7 linked regions of the Homo sapiens genome follow. The protein of the gene in region 5 interacts with the protein of the main gene of each other region in a pairwise test. Each region holds a gene or a part of one and is shown on either strand. Other genes may lie near its edges. The genes, in order: PLEKHG4, WFS1, MID2, SH2B2, HCK, FHL5 and ZSCAN4.

What was found.
Region 1: the proteins of HCK (region 5) and PLEKHG4 interact in binary tests that used the Homo sapiens proteins (3 or more experiments, as listed by UniProt).
Region 2: the proteins of HCK (region 5) and WFS1 interact in binary tests that used the Homo sapiens proteins (3 or more experiments, as listed by UniProt).
Region 3: the proteins of HCK (region 5) and MID2 interact in binary tests that used the Homo sapiens proteins (3 or more experiments, as listed by UniProt).
Region 4: the proteins of HCK (region 5) and SH2B2 interact in binary tests that used the Homo sapiens proteins (3 or more experiments, as listed by UniProt).
Region 6: the proteins of HCK (region 5) and FHL5 interact in binary tests that used the Homo sapiens proteins (3 or more experiments, as listed by UniProt).
Region 7: the proteins of HCK (region 5) and ZSCAN4 interact in binary tests that used the Homo sapiens proteins (3 or more experiments, as listed by UniProt).

The regions. Positions count from the first base shown.
Region 1 is NC_000016.10:67,286,032-67,289,531, forward strand, and holds the end of PLEKHG4 (puratrophin-1), read left to right. Parts: intron 1-242; coding exon 243-332; intron 333-413; coding exon 414-635; intron 636-717; coding exon 718-888; intron 889-968; coding exon 969-1,146; intron 1,147-1,866; coding exon 1,867-1,983; intron 1,984-2,135; coding exon 2,136-2,369; intron 2,370-2,444; coding exon of another isoform or gene 2,445-2,457; coding exon 2,458-2,573; intron 2,574-2,771; coding exon 2,772-2,777; 3' UTR 2,778-3,449; downstream 3,450-3,500. UniProt on the Homo sapiens protein: Possible role in intracellular signaling and cytoskeleton dynamics at the Golgi.
Region 2 is NC_000004.12:6,276,350-6,279,849, forward strand, and holds part of WFS1 (wolframin), read left to right. Parts: intron 1-1,101; 5' UTR 1,102-1,106; coding exon 1,107-1,338; intron 1,339-3,500. UniProt on the Homo sapiens protein: Participates in the regulation of cellular Ca(2+) homeostasis, at least partly, by modulating the filling state of the endoplasmic reticulum Ca(2+) store.
Region 3 is NC_000023.11:107,929,502-107,932,137, reverse strand, and holds the end of MID2 (probable E3 ubiquitin-protein ligase MID2), read right to left. Parts: 3' UTR 501-2,636; downstream 1-500. UniProt on the Homo sapiens protein: E3 ubiquitin ligase that plays a role in microtubule stabilization. Mediates the 'Lys-48'-linked polyubiquitination of LRRK2 to drive its localization to microtubules and its proteasomal degradation in neurons.
Region 4 is NC_000007.14:102,289,868-102,293,367, reverse strand, and holds part of SH2B2 (SH2B adapter protein 2), read right to left. Parts: intron 266-3,500; exon of another isoform or gene 181-265; intron 1-180. UniProt on the Homo sapiens protein: Adapter protein for several members of the tyrosine kinase receptor family. Involved in multiple signaling pathways. May be involved in coupling from immunoreceptor to Ras signaling. Acts as a negative regulator of cytokine signaling in collaboration with CBL.
Region 5 is NC_000020.11:32,072,742-32,076,241, forward strand, and holds part of HCK (tyrosine-protein kinase HCK), read left to right. Parts: intron 1-577; coding exon 578-620; intron 621-974; coding exon 975-1,077; intron 1,078-1,881; coding exon 1,882-1,980; intron 1,981-3,500. UniProt on the Homo sapiens protein: Non-receptor tyrosine-protein kinase found in hematopoietic cells that transmits signals from cell surface receptors and plays an important role in the regulation of innate immune responses, including neutrophil, monocyte, macrophage and mast cell functions, phagocytosis, cell survival and proliferation, cell adhesion and migration.
Region 6 is NC_000006.12:96,604,628-96,608,127, forward strand, and holds part of FHL5 (four and a half LIM domains protein 5), read left to right. Parts: intron 1-122; coding exon 123-297; intron 298-1,274; coding exon 1,275-1,444; intron 1,445-3,500. UniProt on the Homo sapiens protein: May be involved in the regulation of spermatogenesis. Stimulates CREM transcriptional activity in a phosphorylation-independent manner.
Region 7 is NC_000019.10:57,671,935-57,675,434, reverse strand, and holds part of ZSCAN4 (zinc finger and SCAN domain-containing protein 4), read right to left. Parts: intron 1-3,500. UniProt on the Homo sapiens protein: Embryonic stem (ES) cell-specific transcription factor required to regulate ES cell pluripotency. Binds telomeres and plays a key role in genomic stability in ES cells by regulating telomere elongation.

The sequences.
Region 1 (3,500 bases), on a different chromosome or scaffold from region 5:
GGAGCTCAGTCTGAGGGCAAGGGGCTTCTTCCTTGGGGGCCTGTGGGCACACCCCCTTTGCCCAGTACTGTTCTTGCCAAATCACCCCTTGTTCAAAGCAGGGAAGACTGGGTCTGTAGGGGAGGCCTCCCTAAGAGGCATCTACTGGCATTTTGGTCCTCTCAAGCTGAGGGTGGTCTAGCCTGTGCCAGCCTTAGGGAGCTGGCCCCTTTGCACTGGGGCTGAGCCACATGTCCTTGTAGAGGGTGCAGTTTGGGATGTACGCGCTCTACAGCAAGAATAAGCCTCGCTCCGATGCCCTGATGTCAAGCTATGGGCACACCTTCTTCAAGGTAAGTGAACCTGAGATTAGGAGGAGTAGGGGATGCGGGGAGTGCCCCCAAACCACTCAGTGGCCTCCCATCCGCCCACAGGACAAGCAGCAAGCACTGGGGGACCACCTGGACCTGGCCTCCTACCTGCTAAAGCCCATCCAGCGCATGGGCAAGTACGCACTGCTGCTGCAGGAGCTGGCACGGGCCTGCGGGGGCCCCACGCAGGAGCTCAGTGCGCTGCGGGAGGCCCAGAGCCTTGTGCACTTCCAGCTGCGGCACGGAAACGACCTGCTGGCCATGGACGCCATCCAGGGCTGTGATGTGAGTCATCCCAGGGCAAGGGCAGTGGGTGTGAAGAAGAAGGCAGAAGAGGCTGGCCACCCACCAGCCCCCAACTCTGCAGGTTAACCTCAAGGAACAGGGGCAGCTGGTGCGACAGGATGAGTTTGTGGTGCGCACTGGGCGCCACAAGTCCGTGCGCCGCATCTTCCTTTTTGAGGAGCTGCTGCTCTTCAGCAAGCCTCGCCATGGGCCCACAGGGGTTGACACATTTGCCTACAAGCGCTCCTTCAAGGTAGGCCTGCCCACCCCAGGCCCCACCACTTGTTTTCCCGCCCCATGCCTTACCAAGCCCCTCTCTCCCGCTGGCCACAGATGGCAGACCTTGGTCTCACTGAGTGCTGTGGGAACAGCAACCTGCGCTTCGAGATCTGGTTCCGCCGCCGCAAGGCCAGGGACACCTTTGTGCTGCAGGCCTCCAGCCTGGCTATCAAGCAGGCCTGGACAGCTGACATCTCCCACCTGCTTTGGAGGCAGGCCGTCCACAACAAGGGTGGGTCCATGCCCCTCCTTCACGCCACACTCCCCTCACTGGAGAGCTTACATTGACCCACAGGAGCCCAGAGACCTGGGAAAAGCTCGGGAAGTGGGGAGAAGGCCCAGCGACAGCCACCAGTGCAGGAGAAAGGATTTCAAAGCCAGGCAGCCTTGCTGTCACTGCCTCTGACTTTGGACACAACGTGAACTTCTCTGAATATAAGGGGCATCATGGCTCTCTCTCTCTTTATTTTTGGAGACAGGGTCTCGCTCTGTCGCCCAGGATGGCGTGCAGTGGCATGATCTTTGCTCATTGTAGCCTCTGCCTCCTGAGCTCAAGCATTCTTCCCACCTAAGCCTCCCAAGTAGCTGAGACTACAGGCATGTGCCACCATGCCTAATTTGTAAAATTTTTTCATAGAGGTCTCATTATATTGCCCAGACTGGTCTTGAACTCCTGGGCTCAAACAATCCTCCTACCTCGGCCTCCCAAAGTGTTGGGATTACAGGCGTGAGCCACTGCGCCCAGCCAGGGGCCTCATCTTTAAAAGGGGAATATGGCACCTGCCCCACAGGATTGTTGGGAGGAGAGCACCTGGCACTAGAAAGGCTCAGCTCACAGGACAGTTAATGTGCTGGATGGAGGTGTACAGGAAAGACTTATCTGGGGGGTGGTAGAGGCCCAAGGACAGGCTTATGTCCAGAAGCATCCCACTTATGTCCACTCTCCACCCAGAGGTGCGCATGGCTGAGATGGTGTCCATGGGTGTGGGGAACAAGGCCTTCCGAGACATTGCTCCCAGCGAGGAAGCCATCAACGACCGCACCGTCAACTATGTCCTGAAGTGCCGAGGTAGCAGGCAGGCTACAGGGTGTGGGGGTGGGAGTAGGAAAGCTGTGCGGGAAGCACTGTGGCCCTCCATTAGTGCTGGCCCGCACTTTCCTTGGGATCTGGGGCCAGGCTAGGCTCTGGCCTGTCCCAACCTGACCCTCTCTCTTATGCAGAAGTTCGCTCTCGGGCGTCCATTGCCGTAGCCCCGTTTGACCATGACAGCCTCTACCTGGGGGCCTCGAACTCCCTTCCTGGAGACCCTGCCTCTTGCTCTGTTCTGGGGTCCCTCAACCTGCACCTGTACAGAGACCCAGCTCTTCTGGGTCTCCGCTGTCCCCTGTATCCCAGCTTCCCAGAGGAAGCAGCACTGGAGGCTGAGGCAGAGCTGGGCGGCCAGCCCTCTTTGAGTATGTCTGGGCCTAGCCAGAGGCAGGAGGGCATGGCTTGGGGTCTGGGGCTTCCCGTGCTGACAGTTCACCCAGTCTCCCTCCCTAGCTGCTGAGGACTCAGAGATCTCGTCCCAATGCCCATCAGCCAGTGGCTCCAGTGGCTCTGACAGCAGCTGTGTGTCAGGGCAGGCCCTGGGTAGGGGCCTGGAGGACTTACCCTGTGTGAGTGCCATTTGCCCTATACCCACCAGCCCTTCCCCAGCCCAAGCTGAGCCTGTGACTGTGACCAGCCCCTCCCCAGCCCAGGCTAGGCCTTTACTTTGGGTAGAGCTTGGGGTGGGTGGGCCAGAGCCATTCCCCAGACACCTCCTGGGTCCAGAGTCAGGGAAGCAGGCATTCATGCCTGGCCTGGCCCTGCAGGTCTGAGCCCGGGACTGGACGAGCAGTAGATCCAGCAGCCTGCAGCTCCAAGGAACATTGCCTCTCTGGATCTGCTGTGACCAGGGTGTGGCTGACACCTGGGCTACCTCCAACCTACATGTGCAACGCTGTTGACTACCCTTTCTGATGTGTGTGGCCATTGGACTAACTGGCACGGGGCCTCTCTAGGGAAGTCTGGTTGTAGAGCCTGAATAGGCTCCTGGCCCCATGACCCCTTCTCCTGTCCCCAGCTCCCATCCCAGTTGTGGGTTAAGAATAGGCTAGAGCAGACATTGGGTGTTTCCATGCTGTAGGCTGGTGGGGGACCATGTGCCTCTAGGCAGTGACTAGGGTGCCCCCACCCCTCAGGAAGAACACAGGTGGGCTCCTAGCAGCTGATCCCCAATGCCTGGCCTTAAAGCCGAGCTCAGTTACCATAGGGACAGGTCCACCTCTACTGGGCCCTCATGCTTGCCTTTCCTGGCCCCCAGGCCCAGCCCCTTTTTACTGGGGCAGTTTCGTTATTTTGACTTGATGCCTTTTGAATAACTTTCAATAGAATTGTCTAAAATTATCTTACTGGTTGTTAGGCCTTTGGTGTCTCAGAGAAGGAGTCTAGGTCTTTGATGTGTGATTTAATCTTTTATTTGTTTATAATAAAAAATAGACTGATATGTACCCTCTGATGGGCACATGCATTCTGGGCTATCTCCAATTAAAATGAGACTT
Region 2 (3,500 bases), on a different chromosome or scaffold from region 5:
AGCAGCATGTGAGGGCCTCTGTTGAATAAAATAAAGCCCTTGCTCCGGCGTGACACGGGTCACGGGATCTCTGCTCACTCTAGTCTCTTCTGATGCCCCCACCGCACTGTTTGCCTTAGTTTGCTTTTTACTCTCTGTGTTGGTTTCTGGGGCATCAGTCCTCTGACTTCGGTGCTGTGGCTTGGGCCTGGGGTGGGGGCTGTGGAGCGGCAGATCTGGGTATGAATCCCAGCTCCACCCATTTGGCTCCCTCTCTTCTCTCCCCTGCCCTCTTCTCCCCTCCCCAGCTCCCTTCCCCTCTCATATTTACTTAACTTTACTCAGTACCAGCGTATTAGTTTTCTAGGGCTTCCGTAAGAAACTACTGGAAACTTGGTGGCTTAAAACAACAGAGGTTTGTTCTCTGATGGTTCTGGAGGCAGAAGTCTGAAGTCAAGGTGTGGGCAGGGTGGGTCCCTCCTGGAGGCTCTGAGGGAGGCTCAGTTCCTCGCCTCTGTCCAGCTTCTGGCAGTGGCCAGTGGTCCTCCTGCTCCTTGGCCACTGTCACCCGTCTCCGCATGGCTCTGTTACACTTCTCTTCCTATAGGCCATCAGCTCTTGGAGCCAGGGCTTCCCTACTCCAGGCTGATCTCATTTCAAGATCCTTAAATACATCTTCAAAGACCTGTTTTTCCAAATAAGGGCACATTCACAGACATTGGTGGGCACATGATGTGGGGCCCAATTCAGCCCCCTGCAGCCAGGCTCCACATGGGTGGGCTCTGGGTGTTGCTATCATCATCCCCGTTTCTTGGATGAGGGAAGGCCAGGGTTGTGTGGCTCATGCCCAGTGAGGCAGGGACTCCAGGCCTCGGCATGTGCAGGTCTGAGATTGTAAGTGCCATGCCATCTGTAGAGTCACGTGGGTGAGTGTCCTCCCATGGTTTCCTCCCTGGAAGCGGTGCTGGCCCATGGGGACTGTACTGAGTGTCAGCGAGATCCTGTATGGAGTGTCTGGCAGCTCCCACCTGCCTCCCTCTGCTTTTCTGTCTCCAGCAGACACTAAGTGCCAGAGCGGGCTCTGCCGGTGCTGGATGTGCCTGACCTTGACTTTTCTTCCAGGCAGGATGGACTCCAACACTGCTCCGCTGGGCCCCTCCTGCCCACAGCCCCCGCCAGCACCGCAGCCCCAGGCGCGTTCCCGACTCAATGCCACAGCCTCGTTGGAGCAGGAGAGGAGCGAAAGGCCCCGAGCACCCGGACCCCAGGCTGGCCCTGGCCCTGGTGTTAGAGACGCAGCGGCCCCCGCTGAACCCCAGGCCCAGCATACCAGGAGCCGGGAAAGAGCAGACGGCACCGGTAAGGGAGCAGGCTGGGAAGCCCAGGCTGGGGATGTTCAGGGATAGCTGGGTGGGAACGGGGTTCAGCCACCCCTGGAGGGTCCCCCCGCCAGGTCCTCTGCAGTTCAGCATTGTGCAGCTCCCATGCTGTGCACAGGCGTCCATCCAGTGGGGCTACCCACCTCCTCAGAGCCTTGCACCTGTCACCTTTGTGGCACCCACTCGAGGTGGTGCTGGTGCCCCCACTCCTCTGCAGTCCTTCTCTTCCCAGGGCCTCTGCAGCACTTCACAGCTTCCATTTGCAACAGCGTCCAAACATGTGGAGTAAATTCACGGGCCCTCTGTAACCAACTAGGGTGGCAGGCCAGAGGTGACAGCCACACTCTCGGGAGTGAGGCCACATGCGGGCGAAGCCCTTGGTGCTGAGTTTCCCCTCTCCCTGAGGGAGACTTGTGAGGGACGGGCGTCCTTCACCTCCATCCTGAGGCGGGATGCTGGGGCCCTGGGTGTTCACAGGCAGAGCTGACTGAGGCCCTTGGTCTTCACAGGCCGAGCTGACTGAGGCCCTGGGTGTTCAAAGCAGAGCTGAGGCCCTTGGTGTTCACAGGCAGAGCTGACAGGCTTGTTGGTTCCTGGGTGGTGATGTGAGGGTGGTGGGTGTGAGCCAGGGGAGTCCGGCCCCTGGGCACCTTCTCCAGCTGACTCAGGCCTCGGTCAGCCTTCACTTTTGCTAGAGAGGCCGCTGCCAGGGAGGCTCAGTCCCAGCTCATCACTGCCCCTCCTGCCCATGCAGAAGCCCCAGACCCATGGTGAGTGCCTGCTGTGTACACCAGCCTTTTCCATGTGCCTGCAGGACTCCTCATGGCAGTCCTGAGAGGGGAAACTGAGACACCGAGTCTAGGTGACTTGCCCAAGAGACCCAGCGGGTGAGAGACGAGGTGCTCGAGTGGTCCAGGTTTCCTTCTTGTCCCAGTCACCCCACTGGCAGGGCCGTGGGGCCTCCCTGCTGTGGTCGCAGCGCGCTGAGGCTCCCATGTACCACTTATGCTGGGCGTGCCCTTGGAAACTCACTGCAGCCCTGGGCCCTGTTTGTCTTTGCATCTCCTTAAAAGATCACTGTGCTCCTCTGCTTTGTTTTGGAGGCCTCTGGGCGGATGAGGGCCTGACCCCGGGATTTGGGCCCAGCCTCACGGCTTCAGGGGAACAGATACCAGGGCTCGGAAGCTTGGTTTCAATCTGGGTAATGAGAACAGCCCGCAAAGGACAGAGTCCAAGACTGTGTGTTTCAGATAAGAAGAGTCAGGAAGCAGCTGTGGTTTGTTTGGCTTCGGTCTCCAATGTGGGGGTGGTGAAGAGCAAGCCCTGGGCGCCGCCTGACAGCCCAGTCCCCACCACTGGGCCTGCAGCTGGGGGCAGTGGGCATCCCGTCTCCCAGTCACTGGTCACTGATGTGGCCAAAGCAGGCCTGGCCCTGCATGCCCAGTGGCCGCAGGGAGGGCAGGGCCCAGGGTCCCTGCCAGTAGCAGCTGCTGCGAGAATCTGTTATTTAGCTCCCCCATCCAGCCAACATAGGTGGGTGAGCATCAGTTGAAATACCAATAGGTAACAACAAGGGTAGCTATTTAACTGACACTTCCCCGAGCTAGGCATCTTTTTAGGGCATTAGCCCACTTGCCTCTTTAACAGCCCTGGGAGGCAGGCTCTGCTGCTGCCCTGTTTTTCAGATGGGAAACCGAGGGATAGAGGGCTTAAGTAGATGACCCAGCGTCCCGTGGTTGGTGAAGGGTGGAGGGGAGATTTAAACATACCGTGGAGCCTGTGCTCACTATGGGCCTCAGGTCATCTGCGCCCAGGGATCCCCATGTCCCAGGCTCAGAGAAGTGCACAGAGCAGGTTGGCCTGTCCCTAGATCAGTGCCTGGCCAGGCCCTGGTGACAGGAGTGAAGGCTCAGTCCTGCCCTCCGGGAGCCCTGAGCAATATGGGAGACAGGAGTGAACAAGGAACTACATTCTGGGGCTCATGTAGCGCGGGGGACAACCCACATTGCAGTCCCCTAGGGGCACCCCAGGAGGGCCTGGTCACTCTTCAGGGCATCAGGAAGACTGCCTGGAGGAGGCATCGTCGGAGCCCCATCTGAGCTGCTCCTTGGCCTGTACACTTGGGAAACAGGAGAAGAGCAG
Region 3 (2,636 bases), on a different chromosome or scaffold from region 5:
CCCTGCTTCATTCACTTCATATCGCATGATCCCTTTTAGTCTTAGTGCCACTACAAATCTGATTAAGATATGCCCAATTCTAGCCCTGAGGGACCTCCTGGCTTCCTCCCAGTCTCCTCCTGCAGGCCAGCTGTTTTAACAGTAAGTCAGCTCACTTGCTTCTGGTGCTACCCTAATCTTAATCAATGGGTTCCAGCACTGGGATTTTATTTGTTCTTTAATTCTCAACTTCTGCTCCAATCTCTAAAACTGAATGTGTCATGTTTCCTTGAACCCTATATCTTCATTTCTTTGGTCTTCTTGACCATATCATGCTCCTGAAATCAAAGTCTTCTTGATTGGATTTTGAGCTCCAGACCCCCTGGGTCCTTTCTGTCCAGATCACTACCTATTATATGATCCTTGGTTTCCCCTAGTCACTTACCCAATTCCAGGAGAATCCACGGCCATCTTCCTTTTAGTCCTCCCCCAATTCAACTCCAGCGAGAGACAACAAAGAATTCATGAATACATATATATTTATTTAATTCATAATATAGCATTTTGGATGGGCTGGAATATTGTAGAGAGGGATGAGGCTGTGTAATCCACAGATGCTCATATTTCTGTCACTAGGAGAGACACTATTGGTCCAGAGCTCCCAATACAAACAGGCGTGGGGTAAAGCATTTGATAAAAAATAGTCCAACAATAGTCTAATAAATAGTCTAGCCAATAACAACAATACAGCATATGTCTGAAGCTGGCAGACTACACCATAAAAGGCAGTTTTGTCTGACCTGATGGCAATCAGTTTGGCCAACCTGTAACACACAGCCAAATACAGCCATTGGCTCCAAGGCTGCAGTTGGCTTCAGGAGCTAGAAATAAGTGTAGGAGTGGTTCTTACCTACCTGCCTGACACTCTCCATTCCTTGGAGGAAGCAGTATCAAATATTTGAGTTTATTCAAAAGTCCATCCGTGGATTGCTCCATCTTGGTAGTCATATATAAATATGTAAACCATGGAAGTTTAGAAAATTCACCTAGAGTGTTTTAGCCGAAAAGAACAGATAAGTGATTTTGCTGCAATCTGAATTTCACTGCATCTAAAGATACACATAGAATTGTATAATAAAAACACATCCAGATGCAGTTACTCTTACTTACAAGTAGCCAGAACCTCAATGTGGCATTAAAATTTCTTTCATACTCTCAAAACAGGTTTTACTTTATTTTTGATTATTTTTGTGCTTTCTTCAATAAGACAATATAAAAAGTGGAAACAAGCATAAATTGCAGACATAAAATAATCTTCTGGTAGAAACAGTTGTGGAGAACAGGTTGAGTAGAGCAACAACAACAAAAGCTTATGCAGTCACCTTCTTTGAAAATGTTAAATACAAGTCCTATTCTCTTTGTCCAGCTGGGTTTAGCTAGAGGTAGCCAATTACTTCTCTTAAGGTCCATGGCATTGCCAGGATTCTATAAAAGCCAAGTTAACTGAAGTAAATATCTGGGGCCCATCGCACCCCCACTAAGTACTTTGTCACCATGTTGTATCTTAGAAGTCATTTTTCACTGTTTGACTCAGAATTTGGGACTTCAGAGTCAAACTTCATTGCTTACTCCAAACCCAGTTTAATTCCCCACTTTTTTAAGTAGGCTTAGCTTTGAGTGATTTTTGGCTATAACCGAAATGTAAATCCACCTTCAAACAACAAAGTTTGACAAGACTGAAATGTTACTGAAAACAATGGTGCCATATGCTCCAAAGACATTTCCCCAAGATAACTGCCAAAGAGTTTTTGAGGAGGACAATGATCATTTATTATGTAGGAGCCTTGATATCTCTGCAAAATAGAATTAATACAGCTCAAATGGAGTAGTAACCAAGCTTTTCTGCCCAGGAAGTAACAAACATCACTACGAACATGAGAGTACAAGAGGAAACTTTCATAATGCATTTTTTCATTCATACATTCATTCAATAAACATTAGCCAAGCTAATGTTCCAAGCACTGTGCCAGGTATTAACAATATAACAACAATAAAAGACACAGTCCTTCCTCTCAAGGTGTTCAGTCTAGTAGGGAAGATGATTATTCATTAAAATTTTTGGTGCATCAGAATCATGAGGAGCTTGTCAAAAATGTAAATTCCTGCCTATGTTCTCAGATATTCTGGTTAGGTCAGGAGTGGGAACCCAAAATCAATTCTTTTAACAAACACTAAAGGTGATTCTAACACAGGCGGTGTGAGGACCACACTTTGAAAAACACTGCTATACAATGTGATTATTGCTGAGAGAGGGGGATGCTTGGGGTGTCTTTGGATCTCTAAAGAGGGATGCATCATCAAGTCTAAGGAATAAAGAGTTAGTCTGGTTGAGAGAGATAGAGGTGAGGAAAGGTAGTCCAGGATAGAGTCAAAAGTAGGGTGGGGAAATTAGATCTTTGTCCCAGGGCACTAAAATCTAAAAGACACCACAATAAATGAACAGTTTTGGAGAGCCAAGGACAAGGCAAAGGAAATTGTTCTACTGGAATGGAGGTTGCATTTTCTGTACTTACAGCATTTTCACACTATTCCTTTAATTTAAGAAAAATTTCTGTTGTTTACTCTGGGCATTAAAATTGTTAATCATGTTTCTGCTG
Region 4 (3,500 bases), on a different chromosome or scaffold from region 5:
CAGGCCACGGCCTCTCCTAACCCCACGACCAGCAACCCAGACAAGAGACCCCAGCCACCAGCCCGGCTAGACAGTAGGTCCAGCCGGCATGGGGGAGGGGGCGGCGGCTTTCCGGCGGTAAAAATAGCGCTGACAATTGGAGGACCAAAAAAAAAAAAAAAAAAAAAAAGCCGGTCTTCAGCCCCCGCCCGCGCAGCAATTCCGCACCCCAGGGCCGGGTCATTCCTTAAAATATTTATGAGTCGGACTCGCCGCCCCGCCTAATGGGCCCGCGACCAATCGATGCGCGGCACAGTGGGCGGTGGCCCTGGGGGCGGGGAGAGGCAGGAGCCCCGCCCACCTCCAGCTGGCACCCCCCACCTCCTCCCCAGCACCATCCCAGCCACAGGAGGCCAGGAGCACCGGGAAGAGGAGGGATGGTCAGTGGTCCCACAGGTCAAACTAGCTATGCAGCACCTCAAAAGGCTGCGCCCCACTGCCAAGAGACCCCCCCTTCCTCCTGCACCCTCACTTAGCTCCGTCCTCAGAGCAGCAGTCAGAGAACCAAGTGCATGAAGGGGGAGACGGTCAGAACTAAGGGTTCTCTCCTATGTCCTGGGGTGGGCAGTGCCACCTACCCCCCAATGAACCATTCGCTATGGGGAAACTGAGGCCTTTTCTTTTTAGACAAAGTCTCACTCTGTGGCCCAGGCTGGGGTGCAGTGCACTGCACTTTGAACATAGCTCACTGCAGCCTTGAACTCCTGGGCCCAAGCAATTCTCCTGCCTCAGCCTCCCAAGTGGCTGGGACTACAGGCACAAGACGCCATGGCCAGGTAATTTTTTTTTTTTTTTTTTGAGACGGAGTCTTGCTCTGTTGCCGAGGCTGGAGTGCAATGGCGTGATCTTGGCTCACTGCAACTTCCGCCTCCTGGGTTCAAGCGATTCTCCTGCCTCAGCCTCCCGAGTAGCTGGGACTATAGGTGCGTCCTACCAAGCCCGGCTAATTTTTGTATTTTTAGGAGAGGCAGGGTTTCACCATCTTGGCCAGGCTGGTCTCGAACTTCCGACCTCAGGTGATCCGCCCACCTCAGCTTCCCAAAGGGCTGGGATTATAGATGTGAGCCAGTGCACCCGGTCCCAGGTAATTTTTTGATATTTTGGTAGAGATGGGGGTCTCACTATGTTGCCCAGGCTGGTCTCATGCAGCCTCTTCTTGGGGTACCTCCTTGCCTGACACAAGAGACAAGGCCTCACTCTGCTCACCTCCACCATCCTCAGAAAACCTGCCCAGCCATGCCTTCTCATGTCCACTGCCCTTAGGGGTCCTCAGGACCTTAGCAGCACTGGCCTGGCCCACTCAGCCTCACTCTGGACAACATAGGCTCCTTCAATCCTGCTGTTCCTCAAGCACCCTCCTGGCCTCGGTGGGGCAGTCCCTTCCACCCCTGCAGCCTCCTCTCTGCACCCCTCCCTGGGCAGGACACAGATGCTCTTTGGGCAGGTCATCCCTCCGGCCTGGAGTGACTCCCACCCGCTGACTAGGTATGAGTCTCTCTCTCCCCTGCAGATTCAGGAACACAGCACACAGCGCAGTCTCTGCTTCACTGCTGAATACGTGGGCGTTGGTTTTCAAGCCCGTGTTACTGCTCACCTCCGCAGAGACCACATCCCCACAAGGTAGGCTCTGAACCAGGGCCTCCTGCCAGATGTGGCTGGAATTCCCCAACTCTCCCCTCCCAGAATATCTGAGCTCACTCCACCACCCCGGCAGAAGGCAAAGTAGGCATGGCTTCTGGTCTTAACTTAACCCTTGAACTTGCTGTGACTTTGCTGCAGAGTGGATGGGTGGGGGCCTTCTGGCTGGCGATGGGGACAGGTGTGGATTCAGAGCCCTTGGGACTTGTATGCCTCTGTATGGGTGATTAGGTACTAGTGGTCTTGGCTGTTCTGAGCATTAGTTTCCCTAGCTGCTCTTCCGTGCAGATAACTTTCTAGTCCAAGGCTCGGCCTGAGCAGCATCGCTTGGAGGCAGCTATTGCAACAGCCCTGCACCCAGGACAACCCCAGGCCTCTCATGCCACGCTCAGCCTTTGCCACCGCCACGGGAGGGTGGGAGCCCTTCTGCTGAGCCCCCCGGCTTTTGCAGACATCCCAAGCTTGACAAGCCCTGCTGGCACCGGCGTCTGCAGACCCTCAGTCCCAGGGGTTCCCACAGTTGCCTTTGACAGTTGTTCCCCAGCAAAGGGAGCCCCACTGCCTGGGCATCTCCCTATGGCCACCTCTGGTCATTTGACATGCTGGGACAGTGTTAAAAGTCTGAGATCTGGAGCCAGACTGTCTGGGTTTGGATCCCAGCTGCCTTGCTACCCAGTGAAATGACCCCTTGGACTCTGGAGCCTCAGTTTCCCCATCTGTTAAGATGGAGGTGACAGCAGTGCTAAACTTAAGGGGCTGTCATGAAGATTAAATAAGCAATTTGTTTAAAAATCACAGCTCTATTCATTCCCTTTTCCTCCAACTGCTCTTGGCAGGCAGCTGCAGAGGTACCCACTGCCCCAACACATAAACCCAGCCTCCAATGTGGCCAAGGTCAGCGTTCTAGAACCCACATTTCAGTGGGCCATGCCCCTGTTAAAACCCTTCTCCCCTCACATCTTCCCTGTAAGAAAGAGTTGTTTCTCCATTGCAGAGATGAAGAAATGGGGTTCTGGGGAGGGAGGTGACTACCCACCATGCTCTGGCCACCACGCAGTGGTGAGCTCCCACTGTGTGTCAGACGCCAGGTGGGAGGGTCCAGGGCTGCAGAATGGACAAGAGGGGAGGCCGGGTGCAGTGGCTCACACCTGTAATCCCAGCACTTTGGGAGGCCGAGGAGGGCGGATCACTTGAGGTCAGGAGTTTGAGACCAGTCTGGCCAACACGGTGAAACCCCATCTCTACTAAAAATACAAAAATTAGCCAGGCGTGGTGGTGCACACCTGTAACCCCAGCTACTCAGAAGGCTGAGGCATGAGAATTGCTTGAACCCCAGAGGTGGTGGAGGTTGCAGGGAGCGGAGGTTGCAGGGAGCTGAGGTTGCACGCCACTGCACTCCAGCCTGGTCGACAGAGCAAGACTCTGTCTCAAAAAAATAAAAAAAAAAAAGGGGGGTATGGAGCCAAGTTCCAGGCTGGTCCCTTTCTGAGACCTGTTTCTGGGGAACTCCGCTTCCAAGGGCAGAGTGGGAAGACTGAATCCCTGTTTCAGGAAAGGAAATGACCACCTTTAGAGGATGGGGCACTCTGAGCGGCTGGGTGGGGGGGCGGGGGAATCCACAGCTGGGCTCTGCAGGAAGTGCGGGTCAGATAAGCAGGGAGTGGGGGCCAGGACAACAAGCTAAGCCAGGGCCTGTGGGCTCAAGAGGCAGACTCAGCCTCCTTCAGGAGCACCCAGTGCTGGACAGTTCCTGGATGGGCTCTGCAGGTGGAGGACAGGCTGAGCTGGTTCCAGCTGCACTGGCCCTGGTTACTCCCACCCCA
Region 5 (3,500 bases):
GACCGACCCCTTCACTGTGTGTTGAGGGGAGGGGTCAAGCAGCATCCCCCGGTACATCCAAGACCGAAGGCCGAGGTCACAGCTCAAGAAACCTGGATCCTGGCTGGGCACAGTGGCTCACTCCTGTAATCCCAGCACTTTGGGAGGTCAGGAGTTCTAGACCAGCCGGGCCAACATGGTGAAACCCCATCTCTACTAAAAATACAAAATTAGCCAGGCATGGTGGCATGCGCCTGTAATCCCAGCTACTTGGGAGGCTGAGGCAGGAGAATCACTTGAACCCGAGAGGTGGAGGTTTCGGTGAGCTGAGATCACGCCACTGCACTCCAGCCTGGGTGACAGAGTGAGATTCCATCTCAAACAACAGCAACAACAAAAAATCTGGACCATTTTGTTTGCTGGCTCTGCCCCTAATGTGCCGTGTGGTGCCAGGCATGTCCCCTGCCGTATGTGGGCCTCCTCCCACGACATGCAGGGCTAGGGTAAGATGCTCTTGGGTGTCCTTCTCAACACAGACCTTCCACGGGTCCCCACACATTGGTCAGATTCATTCTCTTCTCTCATTTCTTCCCCACAGGGGCCTAATAGCCACAACAGCAACACACCAGGAATCAGGGAGGGTAAGTATCTACGAGCAGATGCAGTGGAGTCATGTGTCCTGCAGAGGACTCCGCTAGGTTCTCCCTTAGCTTGAGGCATAAATCCCAAACAGTCAAACCCCTGTCGAGAATCCCCAAAATTTCCTCTGAAGTGCTTTGCGCAGGCTATTGTGTTTCTAGAACGCTGTTTAGTAACATGAACAAAACATATTTAGCTTTAAACTTGAGAATCACACCCAGCATGGTGAGACGCCTACTTATACTTGGAACCACATATCGATGGGTGCGGAGCTGTTCCAGGTGCCGGGTGAGGGTCACCAAGGGCTGTGGATGCACTTAGACGAAACCTCACCCTCTGTGTGTCTCCCTTCCCAGCAGGCTCTGAGGACATCATCGTGGTTGCCCTGTATGATTACGAGGCCATTCACCACGAAGACCTCAGCTTCCAGAAGGGGGACCAGATGGTGGTCCTAGAGGAGTGAGTCCCCATCCCACTCCCCCTAAGACAGACCTGCCTCCTCTACTCAACTATGTGCTCTTTTGTGCTTCCATAAAGAACCTGATAGATGGGCTATCTTATCCTGGGTATAAATGTCTAATGAGAAGCTAATCACAATAGTGGAGGAAGGGTTTGCTGTCAACCTGGATGAAGGGGATTGTGCACTTACTGAGAGTGCACGTCCAGCCTGAGATGAACAGGTGACGCTTTCTCAGGGAAGCCTTTCTAGGGCTCCTGCGATTAAGCCACCGGCTTTACCTGTGGACCAGGCCCCATCGAGTCGACCTTGCATTTGGAAATCCTTGGATCTCTGAGTTTGCCACCTCGGATCTCCTACAGCCTTCACCATCATGGGTATAGTGTCCAGGATGTGCTGAAGCCCGAGAACGGGAGTGGTCATGCCTGGTCGGACTCCCAAGCCCACTCTCCCCTATTCTCAGCCCCAGCTGAACCATTCTGAGTCTCTATAGGCACAGGACCCTGCCATGGGTATAGCTAATAAGACCAAAGCTGCAAGTCCAGGGAAAAGGAGTGGAGCCAGAGACCCAGGGCTCTGGGCTGTGGACAGGGAGATTCCAGACCCTCAGATGCACAGCAGGAACTGTTGTAAGGATCCCTACCCTAATCATGGCCACATGCTGGGGCTGACATAGTCACAGCCCTGTCCTTCACCCTACTGGCTTTCTGGAGGCAGGGAGTTTTCTAGGTCAAGGCTGGGGAGCTTGAGGAGACTGGAGAATGATCCTTCTGTCCCTAACACCTTTACTCCCTCATGTCCCTCAGATCCGGGGAGTGGTGGAAGGCTCGATCCCTGGCCACCCGGAAGGAGGGCTACATCCCAAGCAACTATGTCGCCCGCGTTGACTCTCTGGAGACAGAGGAGTAAGTATCCTATTTCCTACCTTCCAGAAAGAGGCATGAGCAAAGCCAGCCTTGTTTGCAACTCAGGACGTCTGCACACACTGTACCACTGCCTGGCACATACTCTTCCCAGGGCTCTGGGCTTGGCTGGCTCCTTCTCTTCCTTCAGGTTTCATCCTTCCAGTCAGGGAAGAGAGGCTAAAGTGGGTCCCAGCTGTGACTCTGTCTTGTGGAAACCTGTTTTAATCCCTTCTGAACATGTTTTACTAGCAAAACGACCTGGTTTCTTTGGTTGGTTACACGTGCATTCTCTGCCTGCCCTGCAAGGAAGAGAGCTGGTGAGAGCGGGGACTTTGTCTGCTTCTGCATCCTCGGCACAGGCTGGCATGCAGTCAGTGCTCAATAAATATTGTTGAATGAAGCACACGGTCTTGCCAAGGAGGGTTTCTGGAGAGGTGAGACAGCTCACACCTGGCCAGTCGTCCCTCATTTGTTGTTTTGTTTTGTTTTGAGACAGGGTCTCACTCTGTTGCCCAGGCTGGAATGCAGTAGCACCATCACAGCTCACTTCAGCCTCAGCCTCCCTGGGCTCAGTTGATCCTCCCACCTCAGCCTCCCAAGTAGCTGGGACTACAAGTGCGCATCACCATGCCCAGCTAATTTTTTTCTTTTTTGTATTTTTGGTAGAGAGGGGGTCTCTCTGTGTTGCCCAGGCTGGTCTCAAACTCCTGGGCTCAAGTGATCTTCTCGCCTCAGCCTCCCAAAATGCTGGGATTATAGGCCTGAACCACTGCACCTGGCCCATCCCTCATTTGATTCATTCGACAAGCACATGCTCATGACTCTTCAAGCCCTGTGCCAGCCTAAGGGGCTGTGGAAACAAATAAGATATATCCCTACCCTCAAGGAGCTCTCCATAACCCATCGTTCTTGGCTGTGGGTTCTTCTTGTGTCTAGCTTGACTCTAAAAATATACTTCAGTCATCCATCCATCCATCCATCCATTCATCCATCCATCCATCCATCCATCCATCCATCCATCATCCAACAGATACCTGTTGATTCCCTATTCCAGGGTTAGAAGATGACTTAGATGGGGCTCCCTGCTGGAGATGTTCTCTGTATGGTGGATGAGGTTGATGAGTAAAAAGATGACTACATTGTGGGGTGGCAATACATCCCATTAAAAACCAGCCAATCAAAAGTTGACAAATGACAGTCCCCATTGTTTTGTCTCTTCTGCCTCCTCTTTCTAGCTAGATGGTATTATGGGTTTGGGATGCTTGCCTGTTAAAAATGAAAACGCTTAGGCTTTTCCCATTATAAAGCCACCTCCTTCTGGCTGGGCATGGTGGCTCACACCTGTAATCCCAGCACTTCGGGAGGCCAAGGCACGCAGATCACCTGAGGTCAGGAGTTCGAGACCAGCCTGACCAACAAGGTGTAACCCCATCTCTACTAAAAATACAAAAAAAATTAGCTGGGTGTGGTGGTGCGTGCCTGTAGTCCCAGCTACTCGGGAGGCTGAGGCAGGAGAATCA
Region 6 (3,500 bases), on a different chromosome or scaffold from region 5:
TTCCCTCACGCTACTAGCACAACCTACTGACATGAGAGTCCCAGGAGTGTTCAGTTTTGTTTCATAAAATGGCCTGTATTGTCACAACCACATTTAATTAACTTTTATTTACTGTCTCAAAGGATCTTTGTTACAAAGACCGGCACTGGCATGAAGGATGCTTCAAGTGCACCAAATGCAATCACTCTTTGGTGGAAAAGCCTTTTGCTGCCAAGGATGAGCGCCTGCTGTGCACGGAGTGCTATTCTAACGAGTGCTCCTCCAAGTGCTTCCACTGCAAGAGGACCATCATGCCTGGTAGGGTCTCAAGGGGGCTCCTGTCTCTAACTGAAGCTGTGATGCTTTTCATTAAGTCCCAGCACATGAGGAGTGCAGCAGCTCCCAAAACCCTGGTTTTGAGAAAGATATCTTTCTTACTCTCTCAATCTTCTTCCGTGTACTTTAGAAATAAAAAGATTATTCATTCATTATCCTTGAACAGGTAAATTACAGTGTTCTGTGTATTTTCATATAGTCTAATTCATAGAAACATTTCAAACCAGAATCTTACCCATAAAATAAAGACAAAATGTATACCAATAACACTACATTAAACACAGTGCCCTAGGCACAATCAATGGCATCAGAAAGAGTGATTCATCATAGGCGATTGGGGCCAACTGCCATTTTGTAGCTTGACACAAACTGTTTTGAGGATCGGTTATTGTTATTCTCTCTTAGGGAAGACAGGGTTCATGTATATCATTCCACTTTTGGCAAGGACTAATTCTTTATATTTTGATCTTCTCAATCTCTATGGTCAGCAGCATAAGAACATAATTCATTCTCTGCCACTCTTGCTCTCTCATTTTCTTATTATGGATTCAGAGAATTTCTAGAAGGCCATAACTGCACAGTATAGTCTCAGTAGTTGTGCTCTGGGCATTTTTAATACCCTTGTAATGATTATTATGGCCCAATTTATCCAAACCATGTGAAACCATTAGGAGTCTCCATTAAAAGTACTTTTACATCTCCAGATTATAGGTTATGCAGAGCTTGAAAAAGTTTTCAGTCTAAGAGTGATTCTCCATCATCATGGCTAAACTTTATTAACCATTTTTTTTTCTCCAGATGAATGGGTTTTTTTGAACCTGAAAAAATACTATTTTTCTAAAAGGACAATTCATTTATCATCTTAACTTAAAACGTTTTTAAGTAATTTGATCTGTATTTGCTTAAAAAATAAAATTATGCTTGACTTATACTAACATGGCCTTACTTTTGGAGTACAGGTTCCCGCAAAATGGAATTTAAGGGAAACTACTGGCATGAAACCTGTTTTGTGTGTGAGAATTGCCGACAACCTATAGGGACAAAGCCTTTGATCTCCAAAGAGAGTGGCAATTATTGTGTGCCATGTTTTGAGAAGGAGTTTGCTCACTACTGCAACTTTTGTAAGAAGGTAATTTTCTAAAGAGGGTGAAGCTTGTGGAAACTCAGACTATTTCTTTTTAGCTGTATCATATATTTAGAATGAACTGATACTATTATGTTATATCTGTAATCAACACACCCATGGTAGTTTGGACTTTCAACATGTCCAAACCACTAGTTGTCACGATGAGCATGACCATCTTTTTTTTTTTTATTAACCATAAAATTCCAGCCACAACAAGAATTTAATATTCCAAACAGCTCAAGTGATTTGGTATTCCAGTTCATTTCACTGTTTTTTGTTGTTGTTGTTGTTTTATTTTTTTGGGATGGAATCTCGCTCTGTCACCCAGGCTGGAGTGCAGTGGTACAATCTCGGCTCACTGCAACCTCTGCCTTCCAGGTTCAAGAGATTCTCATGTCTCAGCCTTCCAAGTAGCTGGGATTACAGGTGCGTGCCACTGTGTCCAGCTAATTTTTGTATTTTTAGTAGAGACAGGGTTTCACCATGTTGGCTAGTCTGGTCTCGAACTCCTGACCTCAGGTGATCCACCTGCCTTGGCCTTCCAAAGTACTGGGATTACAGGCATGAGCCACCACACTCGGCCCATTCACTGCTTTTATACAAGATCTCACGTATTCTGGGAGAAAGCACAGGTCTCTCTTTGAATACAGATGTTTCTTAAAAAATAATGTTTGATCTATTCAGTATTAACTGTTTCAGAGAAATATGGATTTGCCTCACAAAGTGACTAAGGGAACCAAGTTAAACAGGATGTTTAACTTCTCACATTCTTTCTCAGCAATGCAAATGTCTTCTTGACTTGAAGCTTTTGTATTTCCTATGAGTAGGGCAATCGGCTCAAGAGAGTGCCAAGATCATGGGGGAAGTTCAGTAGACAAAAGACAGAAAGAAGACTAAGAGCAGCAAGTTCCTTCACTCCAGTTCCAGGATCATGTAGGGCCTTCTGACTTGGCTTCCCACTCAAAAAAAACATTTTCTAAGAGAAAAAAAAAGTAATATTTTTGAAGTAAACTTCATCCAATTCTTTTTTTATCCTCTAAGCTTTTATGTGAAAAAGTAGCTCTAACACCTTGATGAAGCCTGTCTGCATTCCATAAAATATATATGGAGGTTCTCAAAGAAATCCTTGACCTGCGAGGCATCATAAGTTTAAAATGACACCATAAATTGTCATGAGAAAGCTGAATCATGAAAATACATTGGATTAGTATAGTGGTTTCAAAGTATTTTTTATCTGTGGGTTACTTTGGCAGAACTCTTAAGCCCATTTGTATATCTGGACAGCTGGAAGTCACACTACCACTTTCTATGCACACATATGTGAACACACATGCACATACACACACACACACACACACGCAGTTAACTGTTTAACATACATAACCAATACCACTACTGCATTTAAAGAGGCAGCAATACACTATGCTAAGTTATCATTATTAAATTACACTATGTTGATGGCTGAGAATTACAATTGATCACATGACATAAAATAATCTTATGACTGAGACCTTCATTACTCTACCAAAACACTGGCTTAGAAGGTGACTTTACAAGCAGCAATCAAGCCATATGACATATGAAGCTCCAAAGAATTACCAGGGTCAATGACGGCATTTAAAAACATGCTGGAGCTGGGCATGGTGGCTCACGTCTGTAATCCCAACACTTTGGAAAGCCAAGGTGGGAAGATTGCCTGAGGCCAGGAGTTCAAGACCAGCCTGGGCAACATAGTGACACCCTGTCTGTATAAAAAAAAAAAAAAGTTTAAAAATTAGCCAAGTATGGTGACACGTGCCTGTAGTCCCAGCTACTTGGGTGGCTGAGGCAGGAGGATCACTTGGGCCCAGAAATTCAAGGCTGCAGTGAGCTATGATTGAGCCACTGTACTCCAGCCTGGGTGACAATGAGATCCTATCTCTAAAAAATATACAAAACTTAAAAACTAAAGAAAATAAAATCTTGCTGGAAATAAAATGAATAGGTTTATCTCACTGTTTTGAGAGACAACTGAGTTGGCCAATTTTAGGCTGCATTTCTTAAAGACAGACTAAAACAG
Region 7 (3,500 bases), on a different chromosome or scaffold from region 5:
TGCTCATGCCTGTAATCCCAACACTTTGGGAGGCTGAGGCAGGTGGATCACCTGAGGTCAGGATTTCGAGACCAGCCTGACCAATATGGTGAAACCCCATCTCTACTAAAAATACAAAAATCAGCCAGGCATGATGGCATGCACCTGTAGTCCTAGCTACTCAGGAGGCTGAGATGGGAGAATTGCTTGAGCCCGGGAGGTGGAGATTGCAGTGAGTCAAGATTGCGCCACTGCACTCCAGCCTGGCTGACAGAGCAAGACTCCGTCTCAAAAAAAAAAAAAAAAAAAAAAAAGCCACACGCACACACAAAACTTAGCTGGGTATGGTGGCACGTGCCTGTAAACCCAGCTACTTCAGTGGTGGAGGCAGGAGAATCCCTTGAACCCGGGAAGTGGGCGTGGCAATGAGCCAGGATCATGCCACTGAGCTCCTGCCTGGGTGACAGAGTGAGACTCTTAAAAAAAAAAAAAAAAAAAACTTGATGTGAAAAATATTTTATAAAGTAGTTACAACAAAATTTATTGTTAAAAGTTTTCTGCTTGAGCTATCATCTCTATGAAACATTGGATTGCTCCCTAACCAGTGAAATAAGGAAAGAAAATATTTCAAACATATTTATAGAGTCTTGATTTTGTTTACAAAGAGTATTCAATAAATTTGGTGGGGATGCAAATCAGTTAACCTCTATGGAAAACAGTATGGAGATTTCTCAGAGAACTAAAAATAGAACCATCATTTGATCCAGCTCAGTATCTACTCAAAAGGAAAGAAATCATTATATAAAAAAAGACACCTGCACTCATATTTTGATTGCAGCACTAGTCACAGGAGCAAAGTCATGGAACCAACCTAAGAGTCTACCAGTGGTTGACTGGATAAAGAAAATGTGAAATACATACCATGGAATATTATGCAGCCATAAAAAAGAATGAAATTAGTCCTTTGCAGCAACATAGTTGGAGCTGGAGGCCATTATCTTAAGTGAACTAACTCAGAAACAGAAAACCAAATACCGCATGTTCTCACTTATAAGTAGAAGCTAAACAGTGGGTACACATGGACATAAGGATGGAAATAACAGATGCTGGGGACTCCAGCGGGGGAGTTGGGAGGGAAATGGGTATTGAAAAATTACCCATTGGGTACAATGTTCACTATTTAAGTAATAGGTACACTAGAAGTCCAATTTCCACCAATATGCAGAATACTTTTGTAACAAACATGCACATGTACTCCCTGAATCTAAAATAAAATAAAATATTCACCAAATATTAGCCTAGGTGAATTTAGGGAGATGTCTATTACAATGCCAATAAACCAAAATGAACTGAATATTGTAATATTGTGTTATCACAAGCAGTTGAAATTAAAACAAAAAAACTCTTTTCACTGTGGCTCACACCTGTAATCCCAACACTTTGGGAGGCCGAGGCGGGCAGATCACTTGAAACCAGGAGTTCAAGACCAGCCTTGCCAACATGGCGAAACCCCGTCTCTACTAAAAATATAAAAATTAGCCAGATGTGGTGGTGCATGCCTGTAATCGCAGCTACTCGGGAGGCTGAGCAAGGAGAATGGGTTGAACTTGGGAAGCAGAGGTTGCAGTGAGTTGAGATTGGGCCACTGCACTTCAGCTTAGGCAACACAGAAACTCTGTCTCAATAATAATAATAATAATAATAATCATCATCATCATCAGAAAATAAAGTATTAGAAACTGAGAGTAGAAGGGTGGTTGCCAGGGGCATGGGGTGGGGCATATGGGAAGATGTTGATCAAATGGTGCAAACTTGATTTATTTTGAGACAGGGTCTCCGTCTGTCAGACAGGCTAGAGTGCAGTGGTGCCATGACAGCTCACTGCAGCCTCAGCCTCCTGGGTTCAAGCGATCCTCCTGCCTTAGCGTCTTGAGTAGCTGGGACTACAGGCACGCACCACACTCAGCTAATTTTTTAAAAATTTTCTTTTCGAGACTTGGTCTCGCTATTTTGTCCAGGTTGTCTTGAACTCCTGGACTCAAGTGACTGCTCCTCACTCTAGCCTTTCTGGGATTACAGGCGTGAGCTACTATGCCTATGGCAAACTTTCATTTATAAAATAAATATGTGGCCGGGCACGGTGACTCGCGCCTGTAATCCCAGCACTTTGGGAGGCCGAGACAGGCGTATCACTTGAGATGAGACGTGGTGAAACCCTTTCTCTACTAAAAATACAAAAATTAGCTGGCTGTGGTGGTGCACACCTGTAATTCCAGCTACTCGGTAGGCTGAGGCAGGAGAATCGCTTGAACCCAGGAGATGGAGGTTGCAGTGAGCCGAGATCGTGCCACTGCACTCCAGCCTGGGCGACAGAGTGAAACTCCATCTCAAAATAAATAAATAAATAAATTAATTAATTAAATGTCACCATGTCCTTCTCAGGCTAGGGAAAAAAAATGAATATGCTCTGGAGATCTGATGTACGGCATGGTGGCTATAGCTAATATATATTGTATGCTTGAAATTTGCTAGATTTTCAGTGTTCTCATGATATAAAAAAGATAATTGGCTCACCCCTGTAATCCCAGTGCTTTGGGAGGCAGAGGTGGGCATATCGCTTGAGGCCAGGAGTTCAAGACCAGCCTGGCAACATGGTGAAACCCCACCTCTATTAAAAATTCAAAAATGAGTTGGGTGTGGTGGCATGCACCGGTAATCCCAGCTACTTGAGAGGCTGAGGCACAAGAATCACTTGAACCTGAGAGGTGGGGGTTGTAGTGAACTGAGATTACGCCACTGTACTCCAGCTTAGGTGACAGAGCAAGATTCTGTCTCAAAAAAAAAAAAAAAAGATAACTATGTGAGGTGATGAATATGTTAACTAGCTTGATCGTGGTAATCATTTTGCAAAGTATACATATATATAGAGAGAGAAGTGTCACATTGTACACCTTAAATATATACAATCTTTGTCAATTATACCTCAATAAAGCTAGGGAAAACAAGAAAAAGAGAAAGAAGTGAATGAAATAGAAAAGACAAGCCAGAATCCATACAAATGACACCTTTCTCTGGCTGAAAACTTATTAGGCACAGACATCTGCAAGGCCACTACCAGCTACACCCACTGTGTTGTGAAAGGATACATTCCTTAGGAAACATTCTTAGCACCTTTTCTGCTTGAATTTTTTTCCCATTAACAGTTACCATTCCTTAGAACTTTACTGCTTTAACCAAAGCTACTATTTTATGTTTATCTGTTTTTACTCCCTGTCCTTTCCTACTGATGTTTAGGATTCAGAAGTAAAAGTGAGTTTGCATTGCTTGAAATTGATTTCTAATCCCAAATCAGATTATCTGGACAACTAGAGACACACCCTTTGAAATCCTGAATGGATAAAGAATTTAATCCCTTTTCTGTTAATATATCATTGCTATTTTTGTGTTTTTTCTCCAATTTTATATATGGTTAACATTTCAAAGATTTGTGCAATTTTGAAAAAAGCAAATTTCATGCCATA